Homo sapiens: one gene and its partners. The protein of the gene in region 6 interacts with the protein of the main gene of each other region in a pairwise test. Each region holds a gene or a part of one and is shown on either strand. Other genes may lie near its edges.

The links.
Region 1: the proteins of ZNF620 (region 6) and POLE2 interact in binary tests that used the Homo sapiens proteins (3 or more experiments, as listed by UniProt).
Region 2: the proteins of ZNF620 (region 6) and ABLIM3 interact in binary tests that used the Homo sapiens proteins (3 or more experiments, as listed by UniProt).
Region 3: the proteins of ZNF620 (region 6) and PIBF1 interact in a two-hybrid assay, tested with the Homo sapiens proteins (one large-scale study listed by BioGRID).
Region 4: the proteins of ZNF620 (region 6) and IGFN1 interact in binary tests that used the Homo sapiens proteins (3 or more experiments, as listed by UniProt).
Region 5: the proteins of ZNF620 (region 6) and ZFHX3 interact in binary tests that used the Homo sapiens proteins (3 or more experiments, as listed by UniProt).
Region 7: the proteins of ZNF620 (region 6) and MAP2K5 interact in binary tests that used the Homo sapiens proteins (3 or more experiments, as listed by UniProt).

What each region holds. Positions count from the first base shown.
Region 1 is NC_000014.9:49,681,541-49,685,551, forward strand, and holds part of POLE2 (DNA polymerase epsilon subunit 2), read right to left. Parts: intron 2,154-4,011; coding exon 2,053-2,153; intron 1-2,052. UniProt on the Homo sapiens protein: Accessory component of the DNA polymerase epsilon complex. Participates in DNA repair and in chromosomal DNA replication.
Region 2 is NC_000005.10:149,139,910-149,144,446, forward strand, and holds the start of ABLIM3 (actin-binding LIM protein 3), read left to right. Parts: upstream 1-1,583; 5' UTR 1,584-1,745; intron 1,746-1,821; exon of another isoform or gene 1,822-2,099; 5' UTR 2,100-2,186; coding exon 2,187-2,199; intron 2,200-2,206; exon of another isoform or gene 2,207-2,880; intron 2,881-3,523; exon of another isoform or gene 3,524-3,689; intron 3,690-4,537. UniProt on the Homo sapiens protein: May act as scaffold protein. May stimulate ABRA activity and ABRA-dependent SRF transcriptional activity.
Region 3 is NC_000013.11:72,784,820-72,788,830, forward strand, and holds part of PIBF1 (progesterone-induced-blocking factor 1), read left to right. Parts: intron 1-4,011.
Region 4 is NC_000001.11:201,193,502-201,197,512, reverse strand, and holds part of IGFN1 (immunoglobulin-like and fibronectin type III domain-containing protein 1), read right to left. Parts: intron 3,360-4,011; coding exon 3,240-3,359; intron 1,675-3,239; coding exon 1,535-1,674; intron 296-1,534; coding exon 196-295; intron 1-195.
Region 5 is NC_000016.10:73,038,035-73,042,045, forward strand, and holds part of ZFHX3 (zinc finger homeobox protein 3), read right to left. Parts: intron 1-4,011.
Region 6 is NC_000003.12:40,512,398-40,516,408, reverse strand, and holds part of ZNF620 (zinc finger protein 620), read right to left. Parts: intron 4,008-4,011; coding exon 3,894-4,007; intron 550-3,893; coding exon 1-549. UniProt on the Homo sapiens protein: May be involved in transcriptional regulation.
Region 7 is NC_000015.10:67,643,486-67,647,496, reverse strand, and holds part of MAP2K5 (dual specificity mitogen-activated protein kinase kinase 5), read right to left. Parts: intron 1,267-4,011; coding exon 1,198-1,266; intron 1,110-1,197; coding exon 1,028-1,109; intron 1-1,027. UniProt on the Homo sapiens protein: Acts as a scaffold for the formation of a ternary MAP3K2/MAP3K3-MAP3K5-MAPK7 signaling complex.

The DNA of each region.
Region 1 (4,011 bases), on a different chromosome or scaffold from region 6:
AGGTGGGTGGATTACCTGAGGTCAGGAGTTCAACACCAGCCTGACCAATATGGTGAAACCCTGTCTCTACCAAAAATATAAAAATTAGCCTGGTGTGGTGGCACGCACCTGTAGTCCCAGCTACTCAGGAGGCTGGGACAGAAGAATCGCTTGAACCCGGGAGGCAGAGGCTGCAGTGAACCAAGATGGCGCCATTGCAGTGAACCGAGATGGCGCCATTGCAGTGAACCGAGATGGCGCCATTGCACTCCAGCCTAGGCAACAGAGTGAGACTCTGTCCCGCTCTCACCAAAAAAAAAAAAAAAAAAGGGAGAGGAGGGAAGCAGTGTGTAGAAAGCAAATGCCTTGAAGGAGTTCCCAAACCTCTACCTTCCTGGGTCACCTTATGTTTCATAACTTTGGTATACTCAAGAAAAAAATGACCATCTTTTATAGAATGTGCTTTTCTTGAAATCCACTTATTCTTTTTTTTTTTTTTTTTTGAGACGGAATCTCACTCTGTCACCCAGTCTGGAGTGCAGTGGCATAATCTCAGCTCACTGCAACCTCTGCCTCCCGGGTTCAAGCGATTCTCCTGCCTCAGCCTCCCAAGGAGCTGGGATTACAGGCGCCTGCCACCATGCCTGGCTAATTTTTGTATATTTAGTAGAGACAGGGTTTGCCATGTTGTCCAGGCTGACCTTGAACTCCTGAACTCAGGCGTTCCCACCAGCCTCGGCCTCCCAAAGTGCTGGGATTACAGGTGTTAGCCACCATGCCTGGCCCCACTTATTCTTATCACAAGCGTTATATAATTTTGTATCAATGTCTATTTTCACCAGGTACAATGGCTCACGCCTGTAATCCCAGCACTTTGGGAGGCCGAGGTGGGCGATCACCTGAAGTTGGCGGTTCGAGACCAGCCTGGCCAACATGGTGAAACCTCGTCTCCACTAAAAATACAAAAATTAGCCAGGCATGGTGGCGCACACCTGTAATCCCAGCTACTCGGGAGGCTGAGGCAGGAGAATCATTTGAACCCAGGAGGCAGAGGATGCAGTGAGCCGAAATAGCACCACTGCATTCCAGCCTGGGCGACAGTGCAAGACTCCTTCTCAGGGAAAAAAAAAAAAAAAAAAAAAAAAAAGTCTATTTTCTACAGTTTGCTTTCAGTAAAATGCCTTCCAACTCTGTTTAGTGTATTCATTATCAGTGCATTAGTAGAATTGCTTTTTATTGAAAAGTTACTGTCTCTGCCCTTTAACTTAGACTTACAAAATTAAGTTAAAATGACTAGCCATTCTATTAAAAAAAAAAAATCCCTGAAGAAATCAAGAAGAGATGTCAGCTCTGTTTACTTTACTCTTCTTTTTTTCCTCCCAAACATTTAGGAGTTAATGACTTAAATAAGACATGGTAATAGCCACTAGGAGAGACAAAGTGACCATAAAGGACCAGATCAAAATCAGAAGCCAAGTGCAGGAAACATGGTGGTGACACCTCCACTGGGGGAAAGGAACTATAAAAGGGCCCTTGGGGATCATCCTGAGGTTCCAACTAAACTAAGGGTTTGGATGTCATCAACAGTTAAAATAAAAAAGGCCGGGTGTGGTGGCTCCCGCCTGTAATCCTAGCACTTTGGGAGGCCGAGGCAGGTGGACTGCGTGAGCCCAGGAGTTTGAGACCAGGCTGAGCAACACAGTGAAACCCCATCTCTACTAAAATACAAAAAATTAGCCTGACATGGAGGTGTGTGCCTGTAATCCCACCTACTCGTGAGGCTGAGACAAGAAAATTGCTTGAACCCGGGAGGTGGGGGTTGCAGTGAGCCAAGATAGCGCCATTGCACTCCAGCCTGGGCAACAGAGCGAGACTCCATCCCAAAAAAGAAAGAAAAAAAAATTAAAATAAACTAAAGGTATTACCCCTTGGGAAGAAATGCTACCATGCATACATCTTATAACACTGGGACATCTTAATAGTGAAGCCTCAACTTCAATTTAAATCTATACATCTAACTGAAGATGCAGAACTATATTAACAATTTAGGAGTTATCAGAAAATATTACTTACAGGGTTGCTTCTCAACTGCATTAATTATCTTTTCCAGTTTATCTTCAAGCTCTAATTCACTGATAGACTGAAGAGCTTCTGTGAGGTACTTAATAGCTTCACTAAGAAAAGGAAAGGAAAAATGAGGCAGGTCATTAGTAATTAAAGGCTAAAAGTTTTCTGCCAAAAAGCAGCAAATACTCATCAATCTGGCACTGAAAGGAAGAACCACTAACTGCTCTCTTCAAGTAGCACTTTATCTTTCCTGTGCTTTCTGAACAAAATCATCCTCCTATGCCTTGCTAACATAAAGCCTCAAATCACATCCTTCCTCTAAGAAGGCTTCCTAGACCAGCTCTACCTGCTGCAATCTCCCCTTTCTTCTGAAATTGTTAAAAATCACATTTACATATACCTTAGATCTGATATATTACATTAGCCTTTTATTACTTACTACCCTACATTTAAGGCAAGAGTCCATCTGTTTCAATGTCAAGCACCATATCCTGAACATAAGACACTCATATATTTAATTTGATAATGCACTTGTTCAAAGTAAATTCCAATAATCACTGTTTTCAATTGTAAAATAAGAAAAAAAATAGGCTTGGCTGTGCGCGGTGGCTCACGCCTGTAATCCCAGCATTTTGGGAGGCCGAGGCGGGCGGATCATGAGGTCAGGAGATCAAGACCATTCTGGCTAACACACGATGAAACCCCGTCTCTACTAAAAACACAAAAAATTTAGCCGGGCATGGTGGCGGGCGCCTGTAGTCCCAGATACTCGGGAGACTGAGGCAGGAGAATGGCGTGAACCCGGGAGGCAGAGCTTGCAGTAAGCCGAGATCGCGCCACTGCACTCCAGCCTGGGCGAGAGAGCGAGACTCCGTCTCAAAAAAAAAAAAGGCTTTAAAAAACTATGACATTTGAATATAATCATAGAAGCAACACTCATTAAAATCACATGAATTTGTGTTATACGAAAGGAGAGGTTGGCACTCCACTTGACAAAGATGGAAGAGGCCCTCGGGCCTGACAATACACATATGGTAAGGCACTGCCACCTGCTTCATGGAGTCTGACCATCATTAAAAAAAAAAAAAAAAAAAAAAAATCATGGCTGGGCACGCGGTGGCTCACGCCTGTAATCCCAGCACTTTGGGAGGCCAAGACGGGCAGATCACGAGGTCAGGAGATCGAAACCATCCTGGCTACCACGGTGAAACACCATCTCTACTAAAAATACAAAAACAAAATTAGCCAGGCATGGTGGCGGGCGCCGGTAGTCCCAGCTACTTGGGAGGCTGAGGAGGGAGAACGGAGTGAACCTGAGAGGCGGAGCTTGCAGTGAGCGGAGATCGGGCCACTACACTCCAGCCTGGGCAACAGAGAAACTCCATCTCAAAAAAAATAAATAAATAAAATAAAATCACATTAATTCCTTACCTAAATCCCAACAATGATCAGAATGAACATGATTAACTAGTTACATGCCACTACATGCCATTCTGTATTTGTAGCACACTTTATACCTCACATCAATATTATTGCTGATTACAATATTAAACAATTAGCTAATTACATGCCATTCTGTATTTGTAGCACACAATTTAACATTTCACATATTATTGTTATAGCCATAACACTAATTGTTCTATATATTGGGTTGCTTTATTAGTTGTTTTGTGTGTAGGTGTTGCATCTCTCAAATTTATTATAGATAACTGAGAACTGAATTATAGATAACTTTAAAACTGTAACTTAGAACTCTGTGCCATCCTTCCACAGAGTTCTAAATACACTTGAAGGTGGTCCATAAATATTTGACCACTGAGTCCCTAAAATCATATACATTTTGGTTGCATCTTGGGACAGTTCTTAGCATAGACCAAAGCCTGTAAAGCCATACAGAATCTTGCCCCTGCCAAATCCCATTAAGCTCATACCATGTCCCTGGCCTTCCTGGCACTCTCCTGCTTT
Region 2 (4,537 bases), on a different chromosome or scaffold from region 6:
TTGGTTTGCTGCACCCATCAACTCATCATTTACATTAGGTATTTCTCCTAATGCTATCCCTCCCCCAGTCCCCTATCCCACAACAAGCCCCAGTGTGTGATGTTCCCCTCCCTGTGTCCATGTGCTCTTATTGTTCAACTCCCACTTATGAGTGAGAACATGTGGACAAAATTCTTAACAATCTATCAAATGTGTTTCAAATCTATTGATCCTTAGGTTTATCCAAAGATTCTTTAATCCTGATCACCTCTCGGGGTCATGAGCCATATCCTTTTTTTCCTCCCTGTGTAAGGTAGAAACGTTGTATTTATCTAAAAGCATTGTATAAAAACATCGTATTTGTCTTTCCCCAATTTTAATAGGGCAGCTATCTAATCTCACACTGATATCCCAGACTTTAGTGCACTGAGCCACTCTCACACAGGATCAAGCTAGAAGTGAGAAGATCTGGTCCGATTCTGCCACAAGATGCTGTGTGTCTTAGGGCACGTTGCCCAGCCTCTCTGACACCCTGTTTCCTTGTCTAAGCTGGGGCTGTGAGTGTTCACAGCCTTTTGAGTCTGCACATGCTCTAATTGAAGTCATGCTATAGACAAGGATCATGTGCCCTCACAGTCTTGTTTTTCAGCACTCAAAAGTCATGCTTCTATGATCATGAATTAGGTTCAGAAAGTGACAGAGTAAGTAGTCACAGGAATGTAAAGAGCCCTACCCCACTGAATCAATTGTGACTAAAACACTTTGGAATATAAACTTCTACAATACACACGTATAAGACATAATTACAAAAAAAAAAAAAAAAACAACAACAACTTGGGGGAAGAGTTAGTTGACCATATGAAAACTAGGGTGGACCTGTGAGGCCACATACCTGCTGTTCTCCTCAGACGGGGAAGTGTTTCAGGGTGGGGCGCCTAGGCAGTCTACTCTTAGGGCTGTGTAATATTAAACCCAGAAAATGTCTGGGTTGCTCTGTCAACAAATATTTATTGGTAGCCACTATATGCCGGGCCCTGTGCTAGGTATTGGGGGCCTGTAGGTGAACCCTACGGACAGACCCATTCTTTCACGGAGCTAACATTCTCGTGGGGAAAAGAGGTAATAAACAATTCTAATGATGAATCAGCGATAGAGGATAAAGGGAATCTGTGAGGGAAGAGGGGACATAAACGCTGGGAGGCTGGAAGAGCCCCTTACGTGTTATCCACTTGTCCAGACGCCATATTCATAGTTGAGAAAGATGAGGCAGAGACGGTAGTGACCGGCTTGAGCCTAGACTGCGCCAAGCTTGCCAGAGCAGAGCCGGGTGGAAACTGTCTTCCTGCAAAGCCAGGTTTTCCTTCACGGCCCCTCCTAATGATGTTTCTTTTCCTATCATTGTCGAGCCCTTAGAACCCCAGGATCGAGGGAGGGAAAACAAGCGCTCAAGCACTCCCTCGTTGGTCCCAGGACACAAGGCCTCGTCCATCTCACAAGGCCTCGTCCATCTCCCATCACACCCTAGGGCCCAGGCAGAAGCCCGGCGGGGCGGGGCCTCGGACACGCGCCGGTGCGTCCAGCAGGTGGCAGCAGCGAGCGGCCGCGCCCCCTGCGCTGCCAACCCGCGAGCCCGCATCATGGATGTCGAGCTCCCCTATTTCGCATTGCTAGCCCTGGAATTCGAGACCCCAGACGAGGACCAGGATTCATGAAATCAGTCGCAGGGGCCGGGGCAGGGGCCTCTGGCTCCCGACACTGGCCGAGAGGTGGGTTCCGGGGCGGGTCGCTGCTCCTTGAAGCCGGGCGGGGACGCGCTGCCCCCGCCCTGCCTCCCTGTGGTCCACACCCCCTTTGGGCTCCGGAGCCGCTGGGCAGGAATAGTCCGGGGTGCGCGCGAGCAGGCGCTGCCAACCCCACTTCTGCCCGGGATTCCAATCTGAGGAGCAGGAGGACCGGGGCGCCGGTGTCCTGCCGCCTCCTTCTCCTTGCTCTCACCTGCGCCTATTAGTCCACGCGCCTTCAAGGCCAGGGGCTACAGCCCAGACAGAGAGGGGACAGCAGAGGGAGAGAGAGCACCTGAGGATACAGAGCTGGCACTGGACTGCCTTTTCACCCCCCAGGTGATGAGTGAGGTTCGAAGAACGGAAGATTTAAAAAGCAGCCGGGGCCTCCGTATTGAATGAAAGACCCAGTGCAAAGACATCACCATGAACACTAGCAGTAAGTGGATCCTCCTCTCCTTTGCCATGGGAACAGGGGTGGGGGCGGGAGGTGAGGGAGCCTGCGCTCGGGCTGCCTGGAAAGAGGAAGGAAGCCTGGCATCTCTGGACACATGACCCCCAGGCTCTTTTTTGGTGCTTTCCGTGCTCCTTGGCAGAGGGATAGCTTCATGACTCTGGCTTTTCGTGATAATTTTGCCAATATTTTATCAGCGGCGCCGGCCGCCTCTCCTGGGAAGGCTGCTCGTCTCCTTCTAGCACTGCCTGGGAAGGCCTAGGAAGCAGTGTGTGGCCATTGTCTGACTGTGGGGGCTCTGAGGAGAACTCCCTGCACACATCTGGAAAACCATGGAGGGCCCTGCCTGTCCCAGAGGTGGGAAGAGCAGGGAGGCTGGCCTGTGGGCAGGCGGGAGGGTAGGTGGGTGTGGGCAGGCAGTGGGCTGGGAAGCCGCAGTTTGATAAACAAATAATCGCCAAGCCACCTTTGGGTCTGGAGATTGTGAAAGATCCAGCTCCCGAGTGCCTGCAGCCCGGTGGGCCCAGGGCTGGTTTCTCTATGTACCTGCAGGCTGGTTAGCTATCCTTGAGAACAAGAAGACAGGAACAGCCCTTTGGCCAAGGGCTCTAACATGCCAGAGGCAACAACTGCTTGCAGAGCCAGGACCAGATATTTTGCTGCCAGGTAGGGCCTCAGCTACTGAGAATGCAGTCCGAAATTCAAGAAGGCACAGTCTGTTTCTCTTCAATGTAGCGCTGTGACCTGGGAGGGCATATCTTGGTTCCAGACTCACTCTCCTGCCCTCTTGTCAGCTTGGCCTGTCTAGGTTATTCCAGCATCGCATAGGGCTGTTGAACCAGAGAACCCCTATGAACAGTCACTTCCCTGGGTCTATGACTTTGTTATCAGTCCCCTCTCTGCATCTCAGACTGCTCATCTGTATGATGAGAGGGGTTGAATTAGAAAGCCTTCTAATCGGCCAGGCACCGTGTTCCATGCCTGTAATCCCAGCACTTTGGGAGGCAGAGGCAGGTGGATCACGAGGTCAGGAGTTCGAGACCAGCCTGACCAACATGATGAAACCCCGTCTCTACTAAAAACACAAAAATTAGCCAGGTGTGGTGGTGTGGGCCTGTAATCCCAGCTACTCAAGAGGCTGAGGCAGGAGAATTGCTTGAACCTGGGAGGCAGAGGTTGCAGTGAGCCGAGATCACACCACTGCACTCCAGCCTGGGCGACAGAGTGAGACTCTGTCTCAAAAAATAATAATAATAATAATAAAAGAAAGCCTTCTAATCTAAGAATCTACACTTTTTTTCTTAAAAAGCTAGAGCTGAGCAACAAGGCCAGAACTATCAAGACCTTATTGAAGCTGTATCCAGCCAAAACCTACTATTTCCTCACACACCCCACCCCACCCCCACCTCCTAGCATGGAAGAGAAAAAAAAAAGCAAAAGCTACTGAGATGAAAATAAAATATATTTATTTACTACGTATTTGTATGATTCATCTCTCTGCTGTCTTCCTTTGTGTATTGCATATCTATGCTAAGCTAGCGAGTGTGGCTGGACTCCCTCTGCCTCTTACAGCCAAAGAATTTTGCCTTTTGATTTTGACAGGCTGGAATGGTGTTTTGGCTTCATACCAGGCTCAGGAAAAGAGGAAAATCCTGTAGCCTCTATCAGCTAGTGGGTCACATGTTTGCATTTGCATGTTTTCAGGCAAATAAAGATGTGAGTTGCCTGTCACTTCTCACTATCTCTAGGAAAAAAAAATGTATTTATGAGAGTCCTTTCCCACTAAGTGACAGAAAAGAAAGATGGCTCATCTATTTTTCAAGGAACTAAGAAAAGAAACAGGCAACTGACTCTGCCCTTTTCTCTCTCTGGAATGCTAAGGAACTCTTGTCCTATTAGTAACACTGAGTATTCCTGAAAGAAGGAAACAGACTATCCTTCTTTTAAGAAAAAGAAAGAAAGAAAAGAAAAAAGAATCAATAGAGTTGGATACTGCAGAATATGAGGACTGGCAAAAATGCCACTACTTTTTATAAGCAGGGAGAGTGTGTGAATTTTGCAGTAATGGAAAATGAACAGAGGAGAATGGCTCAGCAGCCTTGGAAGCCCTCCGGGTTCCCCCCAGGAGGAAGTGCTTCTCTAAACAGACACCTGGGGGACACAGCAAGCACAGAGCTTTGAGGGCTTAACTCCATCATCATGGAGGTACCTCCCAAACCCACGAGTCTGCAAATGCAGAGAGTAGACATCAGACCTCACAAGAAAAGGAGTAACAGAGCCATAGGGTGATATGGATAGGGCATTGGCAGGAGGTCCTTGGGTC
Region 3 (4,011 bases), on a different chromosome or scaffold from region 6:
AAATTACTTTTGTAGGCTCAATTTAAAAAATCTAACATATGAGGTATTTTGTTGTTTTTTGTTGTTGTTGTTGGAGACAGTCTTGCTCTGTCACCCAGGCTGGAGTTCAGTGGCACAATCTTGGCTCACTGCAACCTCCACCTCTTGGGTTCAAGCAATTCTCCTGCCTCAGTCTCCCACGTAGCTGGGATTACAAGTGCTCCCCACCATGCCCAGCTAGCTCTCTGGGATCACTTTTATAAGGGCACCAATCCCAACAGTGAGGGTTCTACCCTTATAACCTAATCACCCCAAAGGCCCCAACTTCCTGCTACTCACATTGGTGATTAGGTTTCAATATACAAATTTTGAGGGGAGAAAAAAAAATAAGCACACAAGACGTATTAGCCGTTGTTGTTTTCAACTAACATAGCATCCTTATCTGTTTCATCCCTTTCATTTTCTGTGCCTTTTATGGCCATCGGACTGAATTTGTTTGTTATTTGTCTGTGAATAGACTATGAGGTCCATGAGGACGGGGATGTTTTTGTATTCATGGTTGTATTTCCAGCACTTAGAACGGTGCCTGACACAAATTAAGTGCCCAGCTATTTCTTAAATGAATGACTGAACCCCATTTTGCTCTGATTAAACAAAGCCACTAGGTGGTTAATAGCATACCCAAGGCCATTCAGATGAAAGTGATAGAGCCAGATAGGATTCAAACCTAGGAAGTCTAAAGCCTATACTCTACACAAGTGAAGCTCCAAACACTTTCTTTTAGGTACCCTATACAGTCACCTACCTAGTCTAGGTCACTTGGTAGTTTATCCATGCATCCAGTGGTTTCCCATCCCTATTCCCTTACTCTTTTTGCATTTCACATGAACTCCATCTACCTTCACCTCTCCAGACCTTAGTGCAACTCATTGAAGAAACCTGAGGTTATCTCCCATTCATTAATTCACCCACTCAGTCAACAAGTATTTTTTTAAGTGCCACCTGTATACCATATCCAGACTTACATTTTGTTCAGCCACCTCTTGTATTATTTGTTTTCAACTTGCATTGTCCTTGGTTGTCAATGGCTTTGCTTCTTTTTAGGTGTAAGCTTTATATTATAGAAATGTTGGTTGATTCATGACAGGCTCTCTAGTGTAACAAATCCAAATTACAGTTCTAGATGCACACAGTTTGGGTTTTGAATTCCAGCCTTACTAAATTCCTTAATGTTTTTATTCCGTGATTTCCTATAAAATGATAATAGTATTTATTCCGTGGAATTATCGGGAGGATTAATCAATGTATGTAAGCTCATAGATGCTTGGTGTATACTAATAATAAACTTATTATTTACATATTATTTTATTTGTAGCTATACTTACTCAGCACAATATTATTATTTTTCTACTTCCATGGTGCTTAGTGTAGTTTTTGTTGTGGTTTTCTAGTTTGACTGAAAATGTAGAAGATTGCAATAGTCGTGTTCCTGAGTTTGACACATAATCATCATTGATCCCTGAAAGGCTGCTGTTTTTCTAATGTATTTATTCTTTTCATTCCTATAGCTCATTCCATTTCTTAATGCAAACATTTTAATGTTTTGTTTACATGTATTCTTGAGAATGTGTATCTTTTAACTTTACAGAAATGTAAATTATATGCTTTGTTTTAGTTCTCATCTCTTTTTTCCTACTCAGCACTGTTTTTGAAGTTATCTATTACTTTGTATACATCTAGTCCTTTGCTTCCAACTCTTATGTAATTCTTTGTGTGCGTCTACCAGTCTTTCTACTCCTACATTGCTAGGCATCCAGATTGCCTCCAGCTCCTTGCAACACATGCAGCATTAGACATTTCTCTTCTGGACCTCTGTGAGCATGTCTTTGACATATATAAATGTCTCCTTCATTTAACTAAGTGTACTGCCAGGTTATCTCCAAAATAGCTGCCCTGCTGTATATTAGTAGAGTTTTTTTCTCTATCATACGAGCACTCAGGATTCTCTGCTTGAAGACTCTTTAGGAATAAGATGTTTGCTCTCAAATATATGAAGAAATACCTATTGTAGAGTTAGCCTTCCATAATTTATTGAACCTAAAGCACCTCTGTTGTAAGATGCATCATTACATACATTGCTAAGGTTAAACACTTCCAGTTGAATTGTTAAGTGCCTTAGATTGTAAAATGCATTCCAATTTTAGAGATGTTAAAATGTGAGAAAGTGTGAGTCTGGAGTTGATGAAAGAATATTTAAAAAATATTTTTATTAAAGAATATGTATATGTATGTTAATGTGTGTATGTGTGTATATATATGTTTACTTCTTACATGCCCTGGGAATAACACCTTAGACAGGCAAACAGCACTACACACATGATATATATTTTTTCACTTATTTGTTTATGTATAAATTGGTATGTGACATATTTCTTTATATGTTTTAAAATAACACCTTTATTTGTATGTGTTATTATATGTTTAGTTATGTCTTTATTTTTGTCTTTATGTGTGAAGCACTCCAGATGAACAAAGTGCTACACTGTTTCTTGTGAGCAGTGATTCTAAAGCTAGTACACCCCACTGAATTTTGTCCCTCTGGTCGATTGTGAGGACTCAGAAGTATATTGGACTCCTGGTGTTAGAGCTGTTTGTTTTCTTGGTGTTTCAATGAGGTCCAGCTCTAGAAGAAAGCAAAGAAGGTTCATGGGGTATTTTGAAATGAACAGGGTCCCCAAAAGCCTGATGGATCTGGTAACACCACGCGGTATTTGATTCAAATCTATCTGGTAGCATCCTCTCTGAATTTTTAAGTGAAGAAGAAAGGGGCTCAATTTGGTAGTGCTGCCATATACTTTTTTTTTCTTTTAATTTTTTTGAGACAGAGTCTCACTCTGTTGCCCAGGCTGGAGTGCAGTGGCATGATCTCAGCTCACTACAACCTTCACTTCCTGTGTTCAAGCGATTCTTGTGCCTCAGCCTCCCGAGTAGCTGGGACTGTAGGCCCGTGCCACAACGCCCAGCTAAGTTTTGTATTTTTGGTAGAGATGGGGGTTTCACTATGTTGGCCAGGCTGGTCTCGAACTCCTGGCCTCAAGCAATCCACCCATTTCAGCCTCCCAAAGTGCAGGTGTGAAGCCACTGCACCCAGCCATGCCATACACTTTTTAGCCTGGGCAGGAAACTTAAAGCCTAGGTCTTGAAAGAAAGGTATTTTTAATTGGTCATTCATTCTCCAAAGCTTATTGAGCATCGTATGCTAACGTTATGAAAAATAAATTTTCCTCACTAGACTATAGCTCCATGATAATGGTTGGAAGTCACAGGAAAGGTAGATTTCTGCTCAGTGTAAGCCTGTTATTGCTATTAACATTGAAATGGCCTGATCTTAAGTTTCTGAGCTTCCTGTCATTGGAAGCATTTAAGTAGTCCTGAATAGTCAACTGTTAATAAATATTATAGGTATTTCTATTTTGGAAAGAGATTGAACCAACTGCCCAGGGTTTCAAGGATTAAGTTCAGCAGTTAATACCAGAGACTTGAAAAATGGTGGTTTCTGGTAACAGAGACCTGGAAACCATGGCTTAAGCAAGAGAAGGATTTTGTTTCTTTGGTATAACAAAAATCCAAAAATAGGTATTTTAGTAGACCTCAAGTGATTACTCCTTGATCGCATTAGGAACCCAGGCTCCTTTTAACCTTAGCTATTTTCAACATATGCTTTTCACCTGAAATCATAAGATAGCTTATCTGCCTCCAGTATTGTGTACATGTAAAAGGTGGTAATAAGGAGAAGGATAGTGGAAAAGGGGGCATGTGCCAAATGAGTCAGTCCTCTTTAAAGAGTTCTTCCAGAAGTTCAAGCCAGTGGCCTCAATTGACTAACATTGTATAGCATGACCACCCCTACCTACAAGGGATGGGAAGCTAACTGGACATGTTGTTACTAATAAAAACCAGAGTATGTCAGAAAGAAGGGAAGGTTTGATGTTGGGAGGCAAGTAAGTTTTTTCTTCTACCCATCAAAATCTT
Region 4 (4,011 bases), on a different chromosome or scaffold from region 6:
TTTTAAACACATGCAGACTCAGTGTGCATGTGGATGAAGCCCGGGGCCCAGCACAAGGTGGGGCTGCAGCAGCGGCAGCAGCCTGGATGGGCCTCCCTTCCCTCCCCTCCCCTCCCTCACTAGCCACGGGGCATCTGATTCCTCTGTGGGTCTCTGCCCTGTGCACTGATGAGACAAACTCAGGGAAAAGCCCACCTTCGATGACAGTGAGTCTCACTGAGCAAGCGGCCTCTCCGTACGCATTTACTGCTGTGCAGCGGTACAGATCCGTGTCCTCGCCTGTCAGCTTGTTGATCTGCAGAGAGGCCAAGGGCAGAGGAACAGGGCTACCACATCCCCTTCCTCCATTTACTAGACACGGCTATGTGTTGGGGGTATAAAGTGAGTAAGACATGGTCCTTGTCCTCATGGAGCTCACAGTCTTTATCAGGAAAGACAGACCCCAAAACAGAAACCTGGTTTGGGACAGAGGGTGGATGTATCAATTCTTTGCCATCAGAGGCAATGTAGCGAAGTAGAAAGAGTGTGCTTTTTGGGGTCAGATGGATCTGGGCCTGAAAACAGTCTCTGTCCTGTATTACTAGCTGTGGGACCTTGGGCAAGTTACCTAACTTCTCTCAACTTCAGTTTCTTCATTTGTAAGATGGGAATATAATACCTCAAAAAAGTGGTGAATAATTAGAATTAAATATATAATCTATGTCAAATATTTAGCCCCTGGGACATAGTAGGGCCTGGCACATAGTAGGTATCCCATGGTTAGTATTTATAATATTGCTCAGATTAGCCAAGATTGATTGAGTACTCACTATAGGCCAGGCACTAGCTAGACACTTTACATAAAACTTTCATCCTCATAACAACTCCTGGCCAGGCGCAGTGGCTCATGTCTGTAATCCCAGCACTTTGGGATGCCGAGGCGGATGGATCATTGTTGGTCAGGAGTTCAAGACTAGCCTGGCCAACATGGTGAAACCCCAACTCTACTAAAAATACAAAAATTAGTCGGGCGTGATGGCGCATGCCTGTAATCTCAGCTACTTGGGAGGCTGAAGCAGGAGAATCGCTTGAACCTGGGAGGTGGAGGTTGCAGAGAACCAAGATCACGCCATTGCACTCCAGCCTGGGCGACAGAGTGAGATCCATCTCAACAACAACTCATAACAACTCCTTAAAGTAGGTACTATTATTATCCCATTTTTACAAATGAGGAGACAGAGGTAAAAAGAGTAAAATGACTTTCTAAAGCCAAGGTGGTGGGCCTGGGATTGTAACTCCAGCAGTCTGACTTCAGAGCTTGAGCTCTTAAGCTCCAGTCTACACCACCTCCCAGGTTATCAGCAGAGGTATCTGCAAGCCTGCCAGATCCATTCTTGGCTCAGGCAACTTTGAGTCACGAGATGGAGTTGAATGGATTCAACCTCAACGAGGAGTATGTCTTACTCCTCTAGGGATTGGAGGCTGCCAAAGAGACCTTCAAGGGGATGGGAAAAGACGAGTAGACCCTGGTCAGGGGAAGAGCTACGGTTCTTACCTGCAGCACGTGCTCCTTGCTGCCAGGGCTGGAGGAGATCTTGTACTTGCTGGAATCACTGAGGTCACCTTTGGAGTTCTGCCAACGCACCTCGGGCCTGGGCTCCCCACAGACCACAGCCCGAAAGACAGCATTTTTCCCTGCAGCAGGAAGAGACGAGTAGGGAGACTGACAAGTTGGGAGAGGGTGACTGTATACTTTATTTAAATTTTAATTTATATCGTCTTCCTCATCTAGGTATTTCAACTGCCCCTTCCAAAAAGGATGCCAGGCCTTGGTCCCCTTGACTCAGGACTCAGAATACGCAGGTGGAAAGCAGCAGATTCCAGGCACCCAGAAGGCAGTGCTTCCTCTTTCTATATTGCAGAAGCTTGGGCTGCTTGAGGGAAAGAGACAGGTGGACTGGCCCTGGTGAAAGGGGAGGCCAGCAGGGCTTTAGGGGACAGGGGCTTTTCTTTGAGAGTGGGTGAGCAAGGAGTCTGAAGGCTCTGCCAAGACTAGGAAGGGAATGAGATTTTGTGAGTTCCGGGCAGGCGCAGGGGCTCACGCATGTAATCCCAGCACTTTGGGAGGCCAAGGCAGTCGTATCACCTGAGATCAGGAGTTCGAGACCAGCCTGGCCAACATGGTGAAACCCCATCTCTATTAAAAATACAAAAAGTAGCCAGGCTTGGTGGCATGTGCCTGTAATCCCAGCTACTTGGGAGGCTGAGGCAGGAGAATCACTTGAACCCCAGAGGCAGATGTTGTAGTGATCAGAGATTGCGCCACTGCACTCCAGCCTGGGCAACAGAGCGAGACTCCATCTCAAAAAAAGAAAAAAAAAAAAGAAGAGATTTTCTGGCTTCCCTTCCTACTCTCTAGGGGGAGGAGGAATCACAACTAGGAGAAGGAGTGACTATTTGGTGCCCGAAGGATCCGGTGCTGAGACACAGGCTTCAGCCTCAGAAAAGACCCCATGCTCCATGCCTGTCATGGAGGCCTGGGAACTGCCCGCCCTCAAGGAATCCCTCAGCCTCCCACCAGGAACATCTCAGTAGACAGCAATATAGACCAAAGGCCCAAGGGCCCTTCCCAATTTCTCATTACCTTGTTCCAGATTTAGAAAAATAAAATACCATTCTTTTTCTTATTACCAGGATGCTATGAACTAAAATTTATTGCAGGGTGTGTGTTGGGGAAAGAACACCAATTCCCACTTTTTCCCCAATAAGCCTTTGTTCCCACCACTTTCTTGGACACCTTCTTATGTGGCCTTCTAGAAGGGCCTTCCTGAGCCCAGCCTGTGAGCCACAGCAGGTGCTGCTGCCTGGAGGCGAGGATTGGGAAGAGTCAAATTAACTGTTTTAACAGTGCCTCTCTGCAGCAGTGGCTTTGAGGTGAGGAGACAGGGACCAGGAAACACCACAACCTCTCCCTGCTCCCCAGTTTAGCATTTTTCCATCCCTGCCCCCCAGATATTTCTCACACCAGAATAGCATGGTGTCTCTTCACTCTCTTTATCCACTCTTTTCCCCAGGCCTCTTGTCACTTCTAGGGTTCCAGGTAAGCACATACCCCCTCAAGGATAGGAGGGAGATGGGCTATGGCCTAGTGATGGATATAGGGCCTGGGTCCCCAGGAAGGTTGGTGCCCCAGCCCTCTCCCCTGGGAGGTAGGAGAGCAAGAATCTTGCCTCCCCTCCGCAGCTCCCCTCTGGGCTCACCCTCTGGCAGAGCCGAGGTGACGGGCTTCTGCTCAAAGTCCGGCGTGCTGCAGCCTTCAGGGATCTCCTCCACCAGCTGCCAGATGCTCACTCCAGGGATGTGGGACTTCCGGAGCTTTCCTGGAGAATGCAGGAGGGAAGGAGATGGGGCCTTCCACCTTCTTCCTCCTGGGTGGCCCTTCAACAGAATGGGCATCCACCCACTCACCCCAGGAGCAAGAAGCCCCTTCTCGCTCCTACTTTTGGGTCAGGATTATTTGTAGTACCTCCTGCCTGTGCACAGTGCTTTTGAATTCTCTAGTGGGAATCTGGTGGCACACACTCTGGCAGTGTGAATGGAGCCTCTAGGAAGTGGGTGGGGCACCCTAGGAAGACCCTGAGTGTGTCACTGGGGAAAAGCTGGGAAGAAAGAGTGAGAAAGGGCTCCTTCTCAGGAAGCCAAGAAGCAGGAGCTCGTGTGGGGGCTTTGCACTCCTTACTCAGGAAAACAAATCAAAACCCAAAGCCAAGACTCAAAAAAAAAGCCAAGCACGGTGGCTTACGCCAGTAATCCCAGCACTTTCGGAGGCCGAGGTGGGCAGATCACCTGAGGTCAGGCATTCGAGACCAGCCTGACCAACATGGTGAAACCCCACCTTTACTAAAAATACAAAAATTAGCCAGGCATGGTGGCAGGCACCTGTAATCCTAGCTACTCAGGAGGCTGAGGTGGGAGAATCACTTGAACCTGGGAGGTGGAGGTTGCAGTGAGCTGAGATCGCGTCACTGTACT
Region 5 (4,011 bases), on a different chromosome or scaffold from region 6:
ATCTCGGCCATTAGTATTCCATTTAGACTTTCCAAAACAAGGTCATCCCAGAGGGTCCTTCCCCTCTTTCCAGTCACAGCTGTGGACTTTCATCCCCTTGTCCAACAAAAGGGACCTTGTACACAAAATTAACCTGAAGCATTAGTCTGTGTGGTGCGAGAGTCCACGGGGCCCTCGGGATATTGACTCCCCCACCCCCCCAACTATCCAGGCTCAGCCCAAAATCCTGTCTAGAGGGCTTCCCCACTGTGGAGGCTGGGGGAGCTTCCCTAGAGATTAGAGACCCTGCCCCTTCAGAATCCGCTTCTCAGCTGCAGCTGTGCAGCCAAGGAAGGCCTTACCTTTCAGAGAATAAACAGAAGAAAAAAACTTCCTCCCTGACTCAGTAACAGTAGAAAACGACCTGACGTCATGGCTGCAAAGGCCCAGAATCATCTGAGAACTAAGCCATCCAATATGACGGCCACAACTGCACGCGGCTTCTGAGCACTGGACATGGGGCTGGTTCTGAGCGTTGAGACCAGAACATCATGGTGAAATCGTGGGTTGCTGAAAATATCTGTTTTAAAGTTAATTCCACCTGTTTCTTTTTACTTTTTATGAATGACTACTAGGAAATGTACAATTACATATAAGCTTGTACTCTCTCTCTCTCTCTCTCTATTGGACAGCACTAGAGAGGTGCAAATGTTACCACCTCAAGTGCTAGCACATTACCATGCTCTAAAAGGAAAGACTCTTCCTTTTTATTACTATTATTATTATTATTATTATTATTATTGAGTCGGGATGTCACTCTGTCACCCAGGCTGGAGTGCAGTGGCACAATCACGGCTCAATGCAGCCTCTACTTCCTGGGCTCAAGCAATCCACCCACCTCAGCCTCCCGAGTAGCTAGGAATACAGGCGTGCACCACCACGCCCGGCTAATTTTTGTATTTTTTTTGTAGAGACAAGGTCTTGCCATGTTGCTAAGGCTGGCCTCGAACCCCTGGGCTCAAACCTCTGGGCTCAAGAGATCCTCCTGCCTCAGCCTCTTGAGTGGCTGGGACTACAGGCACATGCCACCGAGCCTAGCTAATTAAAAAAAAAAAAAAAAAGTTTGTAGAGACAGGGTCTCCCTATGTTGCCCAGGCAGGTCTCAAGCCCCTGAGCTCAAGCAATCCGCCTGCCTCTGCCTCCCAAAGTGCTGAGATTACAGGCTTGAGCCACCACACCCAGCCCAGATTCTTCATTTTTAAATGCCAAAAAGACCAGTGTAAAATTGAGCAAACAGCATCATCTGGTATCAGGTGGAATCACATACGCAGAGGCTGCTCAACTCCCAGGCTGCAGTGAAGGTGTCTAAATGGGGGGAGTGGCCGGGAACCTGCCATTGTTTTAGACCAGGAGAAGCAAATGTAACCTCTATTTCAGGTGTTCTTAACTGGAGGCGATTTTGCCTCCCCAAGGGACAGTGGGCAATTCCTGCAGACATTTTTGATTGTCACATCAAGGGAAGAAGGTGCTACTGGCATCTAGTGGGGAGATGCCAGGGATACTAAATGTCCTACAATGCACAAGGTGGCCCACTCCCCCCAAAAACAATTATCCCCAAACATCAACAGTGCCAACACACAACCAGGAAGTGACCAGGCCTGAGATCCACCCAAGTATCTCTTTTTTTATTTTTTTATTTTTAGTAGAGATGGAGTTTCACCACGTTGCCCAAGCTGATCTCAAACTCCTGAGGTCAGGCAATCCTGCCTAGGCCTACCAAAGTGCTGGGATTACAGGCATGAGCCACCATGCACAACCCAAGCAAATTTTTAATACTCAGATATCCAGGAGCAGGAGGGGACATCCCTTTGCAAAATGGCTTCTCTCCAGAGCTCGGAACTGGTCATAAGTTTGAGCGGTATAAGCAATGTGAGGAAATGAAAATACTACTAATAATTTAAAAACTATAATCGCTTTGTCGCCAGACTGGGTTGAGTGTCAAGGGTTGATTATGTCTGGGCAGCTCTGTTTTTCAAGCTAGTAGGTAAACATGGGGCTTAAAACTCAAAGCAACATAAGGCAGGCTCCCCCACAAGCAAGAGTAGGCCTCTAACAGAGAGTCTGAACTGGGGGAGTCACTGGCATGCCCAGTTCACCATGCCTGACCACACAGGCTAGGCCTGGGTGCCTGTGACAGGCAACGGAGCAGCAAAGGAGCTGTGATGGGGCCTGCAGGTATAGGAAGGGGACAGGGCAAGGGACAGGCGAGGCCAAGACAGGAAGAGCGTGGTGCTGAATGAGAACAGCCCAGCCAGGCTGGGAGGCCGAGCAGGAGGGGGTAGAGGGGAGGCACATGATAATTAACTCTGCAAGTTGATAGTATTTGCATATAAATGCCTCCACAAATCACTACAAACAAGCCAGGACAAGTCAGGCCTATTAGCATACACAAGCCAGCCGGGGAAGGCCTCTCTAGGTGGGTCATTGAGTAGGCTGCTCACTTGGAGGGCCGCCTGCCAGCCTGGGGAGGGGGACAGAAGGGGAGGGCTGGGGTGGATGGGGGACACTGTAACTATTTCAGACTCTTTCACTTCTGAACACGGTTGCAAAGATGTCAAAAGGAGTTGGCTCTATTTCCACCCCATGGGGAAGAAGAGAATTGCTGGACCTTTTAGTTTATTTCTTCCAAGGTGGTAAGAAACGAAAGGTAGCAGAGGCCATCAGTAGCAAAGAAAGAAATGAAAAGGGCGTGGAGATGGCAGCCAATATCCGGAGAAGCTTTTCAGTATGTGAAGTGGTATGAAGCCCTGATTCCTATTTCATTTACTTCCCACTACAAATGTAAGGTATGCATTAGGCCCATTTTACAGACGAAAGAAGTGAGGCCCAAAGAGGTTAAATTACTGGTCCAAAGTCACACAGCTCAGGCCTCACCAGAGGGTGTAACACTGATGGCCTCAGCAGAGGGTGTAAGGCCCATAGCAGAGGAAAGAGCAGAGGCCACCTTTCCAAAGAGTGGGCTTTTTTGATTCACCTTTGCTTCTCCCATTCACTGTTGAGTCCCCATTTGAAGGGGATTCACAAGCAGTGCTCTGGTCCTCAGCCAGACCCTGCCCTGTTTTATTCTGTAATTATTTCCTACCTTCAAACAAACAATGAGGAAGACCACACCTCCCTCCAGTTACACATCTGGGAGTCCGCACCAGGATTTCCTCTGTCACCCAATTTTTCCACTGTCTGGACAATTTTTATAGTTTCACCAGCAAGGGCAAAATATATTGACAGTCCTTTCCCACAAGGTGTAAAAGTTCTCTGCTTTCCCCAAATATACCTCTGGATTTCCTATCTGTTGAAGGAAAAACCAGCTTCGACTGCCTCCGTTAAAAAAGGGTGTGCAGGGCTGAGGTGACCCTACTACCGTCATTTCTGCCATTCTTTACTTGAACAACATTTTTTAAGTGGGCAAAATACTATCTTATGAAAAACAAACCAACAGGGGCCCAGGTAACACACATTCATATAGTCAGTTACACAGACTGAAAGTCTTCATCAATGCCCATCTCAATTACGTTATCAAATAACATAAGGGGACACTATTCAAGATTCCATCAGAACAGAGATGGCATTTAAAAGCAGTCGCTTGAGTAGTGACACCAACCTCCTGCCGCACACACTGAAATCCATGAGCCTCTTCTAAAGTGTCCAAAAGTTGACCTGACACTTTAACGCTGATGCAGATACTCCACAAAAAAAAGCGGAGCTGTTAAAAGGGAAGCAGAAACCATTCCTCCAGTCAAGGCCAAATGTACATTAAGAACCAAGGCCTTGAGCCAAAGAGCATTTTAGGAAGCAGGGCCTTAAATGGTGGAAGAGGCTTGCATTGCTTCTTGAGTAGTTAAGAACAATTGTTTAAAAAAAGAAAAAAGAGAAGTTGGGAGATGGAGAAGAAAGGCACCCATGTGTTCTTCAGCAACTTCCACGGGACAAAGATGTTGGGAAGGGAGAAGTCATCAGAAATAGGCCACTCAGGAG
Region 6 (4,011 bases):
TCTGATGCTGAATCAAGGCTGTGTCTGAACTTAAACCTTTTCCACATTCTTTACATTTAAATGGTTTCTTTCCAGTGTGAATTATCTGATGCCGAATAAGTAATGAGTTATATCTGAAGTATTTTCCACATTCTTTGCATTCAAAAGACTTTTCACCAGTGTGACATTTCTCATGTCGGTGGAAGTCTGCCATTTGAATGAAATATCTGCCACATTGTCCACATTCATAAGATATCTGACCACTAGGATTTGTCTGATTTGTAGTGAGTTGTGTGCTGACGCTAATATTTTTTCCTAATTTCTCAAACTTCTCTCCATTCTTGACCTCATAGGCCTCATGGTGCCTGGCTGAGGTATCTGTGAAATGTCTCCTCTTTGACTTTGTCTTAATTATCCAATGACCTTGTGGCTGCTCTAGGCTGCTCCCAAAGTCAAGGTGCTGGGAAACATTCCCTGGCAGGCCCCCCACCATCAGTCTGAAGGACTCTGTTTCTTTGGACACATGATCCTTTGGAGTTAATCCTTCCTTCTCAGTTCTGGCCTCATCCCCTATCACAAAAAGAAAATACAAATGTCAGTCCCTGATATCACACACACACACACACACACACACACACACACACACACAATATCTGTGCTGAAGAAGAAACAGAATCAAGTGGTTCTAATTTGCCCTGAATATATGGATATTTTCTAATATGCTCACAAGATGGCTGCCTAAGATCACCACACAACAGAGCCCTGCAAGGGACATGAAAACTCTATGAGACGGGAGGGAAGCAAGGCCAGGAGGCATTCCCATAAACAGTGTGAAAACCAGAAAACTGCAAAGACTGTTAATTAGGGCAGAAAGACTAAGAGAAAAATGAATGAGGTGGATAAAGATGCAAACATAAAAAAAGTAACAAATGGAAATCCATAAGTGAGAGGAAGACTCCCAAGATTAGAGAAGGGGCAGGCTGAGCAGTTCAAGCACTACAACAGGTCCCACAGGCTGAGATTCCTTAAGAGATGCTTGTTAAAAGACATCATGCATGTCATAACCTTGAAAAGAGAGCTGATCTCTACCATCAAGCTGGCTCTAGTAAAGCAGCAGGCTCCCATGCAGTGGTTGAGGATGCCATGCATGGCAACCACCACAGCATCCAGGAGAAAGGAAGGTTTGGAGGCTTGCCTTTAAAACCAAAAAGCACTGGAAATGTGAAGAACTCTTCCAAGAGTGAATGTAAGTCCCAAAGAGGGCCTGGTAACGATGCTTGCCATTTTTCCTAAAAGGTCTCATAGGTTGTGCATTTGTTTAATACAACAGTTTGAAAAGTGAACTACTAAACTCACATGATAATAAGGGAAAACCAAAGAGAAATATTCCCTCCACTATCAAAACCTTTTGCAGACTAAGTAAAATCTTCAGCCTGCATGCATTCACAAAAAATTGTTCAGAAAATATTTTTACTCAGATGACGTAGGGTCCTGAGGTCACATCCAGAAAGGTACAACTTAAACTCAAGACTTGGGGGTGGATCAGTAATGGGCATTCTCTGCAGAAGAGCACAGAAAATTTTCACAGGCAGAGAATGGGTGAAGCAGAATAAGAAAGATTAAAAAATATACTATGTTTTATGTATTTATTTATTTTTGAGATAGAGTCTCGCTGTGTCACCCAGGCTGGAGTGTGGTGGTGCAATCTTGGCTCACTGCAACCTCCACCTCCTGGGTTCAAGTGATTCTCATGCTTCAGCCTCCCCAGGAGCTGGTACTACAGGTGCACACCACCATACCCAGCTAATTTTTGATGTTTTTGGGTTTTTTTTGAGACAGAGTCTCGCTCTGTCACTCAGGCTGGTGTAGGGTCCAGCCCTACTGGGCCTCTGGGTTTTTCTCCTCATGTGCAGAGACGAGAGATGGTAGAAATAAAGACACAAGACAAAGAGATAGAAGAAAAGACAGCTGGGCCCAGGGAACCACTACCACCAAGATGCGGAGACTGGTAGTGGCCCTGAATGCCTGGCCGTGCTGTTATTGATTATGTACAAGGCAAAGGGGCAGGGTATGGAGTGAGAGTCATCTCCAATGATAGGTAAGGTCACACGAGTCACATGTCCACCAGACAGGGGGCCCTTCCCTATTTGGTAGCCGAGGCGGAGAGAGAGAGGGGACAGCTTACATCATTATTTCTTCTAGAAGGCAGAGCCAGGTGTACAGGGCAGAACATGAAAGTGGACCAGGAGCGTGACCACTGAAGCACAGCATCAACAGGGAGATGGTTAGGCCTCCGGATGGCTGCGGGTGGGCCTGACTGATGTCAGGCCTTCCACAAGAGGTGGTGGAGCAGTCTTCTCTAACTCCCCCGGGGAAAGGGAGACTCCCTTTCCCGGTCTGCTAAGTAACGGGTGCCTTCCCAGGCACTGGCGCTACCGCTAGACCAAGGTCTGCTAAGTAAGGGGTGCCCTCCCAGGCACTGGCATTACCGCTAGACCAAGGAGCCCTCTGGTGGCCCTGTCCCGGCTTGACAGAGTGCTCACACTCTTGTCTTCTGGTCACTTCTCACAGTGTCCCTTCAGCTCCTATCTCTGTATGGCCTGGTTTTTCCTAGGTTATAATTGTAGAACAGAGATTATTATAATATTGGAATAAAGAGTAATGCTACAAACTAATGATTAATAATATTAATATATAATCATATCTATAATCTATTTCTAGCATAATTATTCTTATTCTATATATTTTCTTTATTATACTGGAACAGCTTGTGCCCTCAGTCTCTTGCCTTGGCACCTGGGTGGCTTGCTGCCCACAGGCTGGAGTGCAATGGTATGATCTCAGCTCACTACGACCTCCACTCCCCAGGTTCAACCGATTCTCCTGCCTCCGCCTCCTGAGTAGCTAGGATTACAGGCACGTGCTACCACGTCCATGCTAATATTTTGTATTTTTAGTAGCGATGGAGTTTCACCATGTTGGCCAGGCTGGTCTCGAACTCCTGACCTCAGGTGATCCACCCACCTCGGTCTCCCAAAGTGCTGGGATTACAGGCATGAACCACCACACCTGGCCATATATATATATATATATATATATATATATATATATATTTTTTTTTTTTTTTAGTTGAGACGGGGTTTCGTCATGTTGGCCAAGCTGGTCTTGAACTCCTGGCCTCAAGTGATCCACCTGCCTCAGCCTCCCAAAATGCTGAGATTACAGGTATGAGCCACCATGCCCAGCCTATTTTTAATTCTTATATCAATAGCCATCGAAGTGAGAAAGTTATTCACCTTTAATTTACAATAAATTTTGCTTCAGAAATTTTTTTAAGTATCTGTGGGGGAAAGATGAAATAAGAATCAAAGGATATTTGTGACTGTTGAAGCTGGATGAAGGATACATGGAGTGCATTATGCTGGTGTTTGCATATATTTGAAAATTTCCATTATAAAAACAAACTTTTTATTCTTTAAGTCAGTGCTTAAACAATGTAGCCTATGATATGCAGATGGCCAGCCATGTTGCCAGAAGCCTATTTTCCTCCAAAGGTGGCTGACATCCTCATCTTTGCAAAAACAAACTGGCAGAAAAATAAAATGTTTTCATGTGACAGAGAAGAAATGAGCTGGTTTAAGTGCTGCCCAATCAGACAGTCTCCCTTGGCAGGTTGTGAGGAGGACAGGCAAAGACGAATATGCAAAGAAATCTTACAGTCATTCCTGTCTTAAAAGAGACTGGCCCTTCCCCAGTTGAGGTAGGCTACCACCATGAACTCAGAGAATCACATGTAATGATTCCACAGGAACAAAAACAGTCTCCCAAGAGAAGAAACACTTCTTGCACAATGAAATGTGAAAACAAGAAAGCAAGCCAAGCCAAAAAGGCAGCTAGTGGGTTCTCATGCTCACCTGGACAGATACCTCTGAGAGCCTCCCTGCCCATAGGTTCCCAGGGATCGAGGCCCCATGGCAGTTCCCCTTGCTCCAGCTGGGAGACCAGAACAGGCGTGGTGAATGGGAATGCTGC
Region 7 (4,011 bases), on a different chromosome or scaffold from region 6:
GGGATTACATGCGTGAACCACCGTGCCCTGTTTCAACAAAAATGTTTGAGTAGAACTGAAAAATTGAAGACTTCAAAGAAAGAATGATAAAAGTTACAACACAGTAACATGTACTGGCTCAATGAATCCACTTTTTCTGGTCAGTCTCCACAGTTACCATACTTACCTATATGGCTGTAAGATTTTTAATTTTTGACATTCTACTATAACTAATTTAGAGCATGTTGTACACCTTATGACAGTATCAAGGTACCAATGTTGGCTCATTAAAGTTTTGCAGGGCACAAACTAATTGCTTTAGTAATGTACTGAGAATCTCCACAAGGAACTAACAATATTTTCTTAAGTTGTGTTTTAATGGACTAGACTATGGAAAACTGAATATGTAAAATTTAAAGACTGCTTAGATTTAAAATTGGTAAATAATAATAATGATGACATCATTTCACTGATATGTCCCTAGAAATCTGTATTTTGCCGTAATATTCAGGTCAAGAAAGAACTACCAAAATAGAAATGAATAAAAAAATAGAGAGGGAAGGAAAGGGCTAAAGTCCAAAGAAAATTAAACACATCTTGGCTAAACAGCTGTGTTGAAAAACAATTTCTTATCTTGCAATTAAGAACCGATTTCTTTCTGAAAGACACAGGACATTGGGTTAATAGATTTCTTTAAAAGAAAATCTGTTTTGGCTATTGAAACATTAAAAGAACAGAACATCTGTTTTGCAAGTAAAGACAGATTGTGCAAAAGAATCAAATATCAAACCACCAATTAGACTAGCATTTAATCTGTTCTATTTAAATTTTCAATAAAAGTGAAGTTCAATTCTTAAAATTACAGTTCGGCTATAAATATTTAACCCCAGGAACCCCTAACACTGAAATAATCTTAGAGTATAAATGAGGTAATTATTAGCATATTTTATTATCTTTAATTCTATTTGATATCTATATCAAAACCAGGTTTTAAAGCACTATATACTCTAAAAATCATTTTAAAAGTATTATAAAAGGGAAAACTCACCATCCATGAATTCTGTACATATTGAAATCCTGTTTTCTACAAAAAATGCTCCATAAAATCCAATGATATATGATGAATCGCACTGTAACAAAAATAAGACAAAAGTAGTTATAAACCTGCAAGTCAATACCATAGGCATGCTTTACAAATAAAAATTATGAAAAAATTACCTTATAAAGAATTTCCAATTCAGACATAATTTGCTTCTGAAGTTCCAGTGTAATATCTAGTAGTATGACCTAAATATAGAAAGGTATTAATATTTTTTAATCTTCTAATTATATTAGTTATAATCACTATGAAATATAAGAACTAAAAACATGGTAGTTCCTTTATTCTTCCCCACCTCCTTCTTCTTACCACTATAATTCCCAGTAATACAAGCTGTATCTGCATCTGTCTAACCTTTTGTCCTTCTATACTGGGGGAGGTGGTACAGAAGTGATTGATGGGACCAAAGAAAAAAGCCAGGTCTCAAAGGTCAATAGTAATGGCTTTAAAAGTCAGTTAAGTTATAACACTCTTAATTTATGCACTCTATTTTAGCCACATTGGCTATTTTCAAAAGAGGAGCATAGGAATGACCCTCAAACCAATATAAAAGAATTATGTTGGCTACGTGCAGTGGCACACACCTGTAATCCCAGCACTCTGGAAGGGAGGCTGAGGTGGAAGGGTACCTGAAGGCCAGGGGTATATGGCCAGTCTAAGCACCATAGCGAGAACCCATCTCTACAAAAAAAAAAAAAAATTACCTGTGTGTAGTATGATCGGGTGGTCCCAATCTACTTGGGAGGCTGAGGTGGGAGGATCACTTGAGCTCAGGAATTTGAGGCTGAAGTGAGCCATGACTGCACCTCTGCACTCCCACCTGGGTGAAAGAGAGAAATCCTGTCTCTTAAAAAAAAGAACTATCTTGTGGTTTGTGATCAGACACTAGGCAATAAGCAGAGAGGATGATGAATAAAAATGACATTTTATTTATTTATTTAGAGACACAGTCTCATGCTGTCACCCAGGCTGGAGTGCAGTGGGGCGATCTTGGTTCACTGCAATCTCTGCCTCCCAGACTTAAACAAACCTCCCACCTCAGCCACCCAAGTAGCTGGGACCACAGGTGTGCCACCATACCCAGCTAATTTTTTGCATTTTTGGTAGAGATGGGGGTTTCACTATGTTGCTCAGGCTGGTCTCGAACTCCTGAGCTCAAGCAATCTGCCCACCTCAGCCTCCCAAAGCACTGGGATTACAGGCATGAGCCATCACAACTGGCCAAAAAATAACTTTTTTCTTTTCTTGAGACAGAGTCTTGCTCTGTTACCCAGGCTGGAGTGCAGTGGCATGATCTCGGCTTACTGCAACCTCTGTCTCCTGGGTTCAAGCAACCTCTGTCTCATGGGCTCAAGCGATTCTCGTGTCTCAGCCTCCTGAGTAGCTGGGATTACAGGTGTCTGCCACCACACCTGGCTAATTTTTGTATTTTTAGTAGAGATGGGGTTTCACCATGTTGGCCAGGCTGGTCTTGAACTCCTGACCTCAATGATCCGCTCACCTCAGCCTCCCAAAGTTCTGGGATTACAAGCGTAAGCCACCATGCCCAGCCAAAAATAACATTTTAAGTGGGGTTTTTAGTTATGAGAGAAATAAGGAATTTTAAAAATATATCATCTTTTTTTTTTCCAGTCAGGTAATGTTCTTTGCTAATCCTGTTACAGAAAGTTAAAGCTTGAAGAAATCTTATTTCATTAACTCCCTTCTTTTGAGTGAGGAGGAAACCACGTTTCCCTCCTGGGAGCCACAGAGCCTGGGAATGGTAGGACCCCCTCCTCTGGACTCAGTCTCATGGGCTTTTCAGTACTTTATGGTTTATTTAAAATATCAATCACTGAGTGATATTACCCACAGTGATTTATAACCCATAAATATAAAATATTTATAAACTTATCTAGAATAAATTCTAGTTTATTTCAAACACATATTTTTTTAAGAAAGAAGACCATACTGTTCAAATTCTACTAAGCATGTCAGTGAAACTAATTCAAGAGTAATTGTTTTATTTATTTATTTATTTATTTAGAGATGGAGTCCTGCCCTGTCACCCAGGCTGGAGTGTAGTGGCGCGATCTTGGCTCACTGCAACCTCCGCCTCCCGGGTTCAAGCCATTCTCCTGCCTCAGCCTCCCAAGTAGCTGGGATTACAGGCACCTGCCACCACACCCGGTTGATTTTTCTATTTTTAGCGCAGACAGGGTTTCACCATGTTGGCCAGGCTGGTCTCGAATTCCTGACCTCAGGTGATCCACCTGCCTCAGCCTCCCAAAGTGCTGGGATTACAGGCGTGAGCCACCGTGCCCAGCTTGTTTTTTACTTTTAAAAGGCAGTGATGAGAATAGAATAGGTGGAAAACAATTTTTATGATTTGTGGCAGAGTTTCTGGCTCTAGACATTTCTAGATAAAAACTTAACATTCAGAATTACTATGATAGTGTAGTTATGTAGCATTCAACTTTGAATTACATTTTGTATTACAACTGAAGAATATATATACAATCATACTGAAGAAAAAAGCATAAGTTATGCATTATAAACTGCTAATAGAGCAAGGAAAGAAAAGGACAATTCTAAAGTACATTTTATAGTCCTGACATTGGCCAGGCGTTGATTTGGGGAAGCGGAAGGTGGGGAAAAAAAAGGCATAGGTGGTTTCTATCAAGAGTTTGCAGCTGGGCGCGGTGGCTCACGCCTGTAATCCCAGCACTTTGGGAGGAGGCTGAGGCGGGCAGATCACGAGGTCAGGAGATCGAGACCATCCTGGCTAACACGGTGAAACCCCATCTCTACTAAAAATACAAAAAATTAGCCAGGTGTGGTGGCGGGCACCTGTAGTCCCAGCTACTTGGGAGGCTAAGGCAGAAGAATGGCGTGAACCCAGGAGGCGGAGCTTCCAGTGAGCTGAGATCACGCCACTGCACACCAGTCTGGGC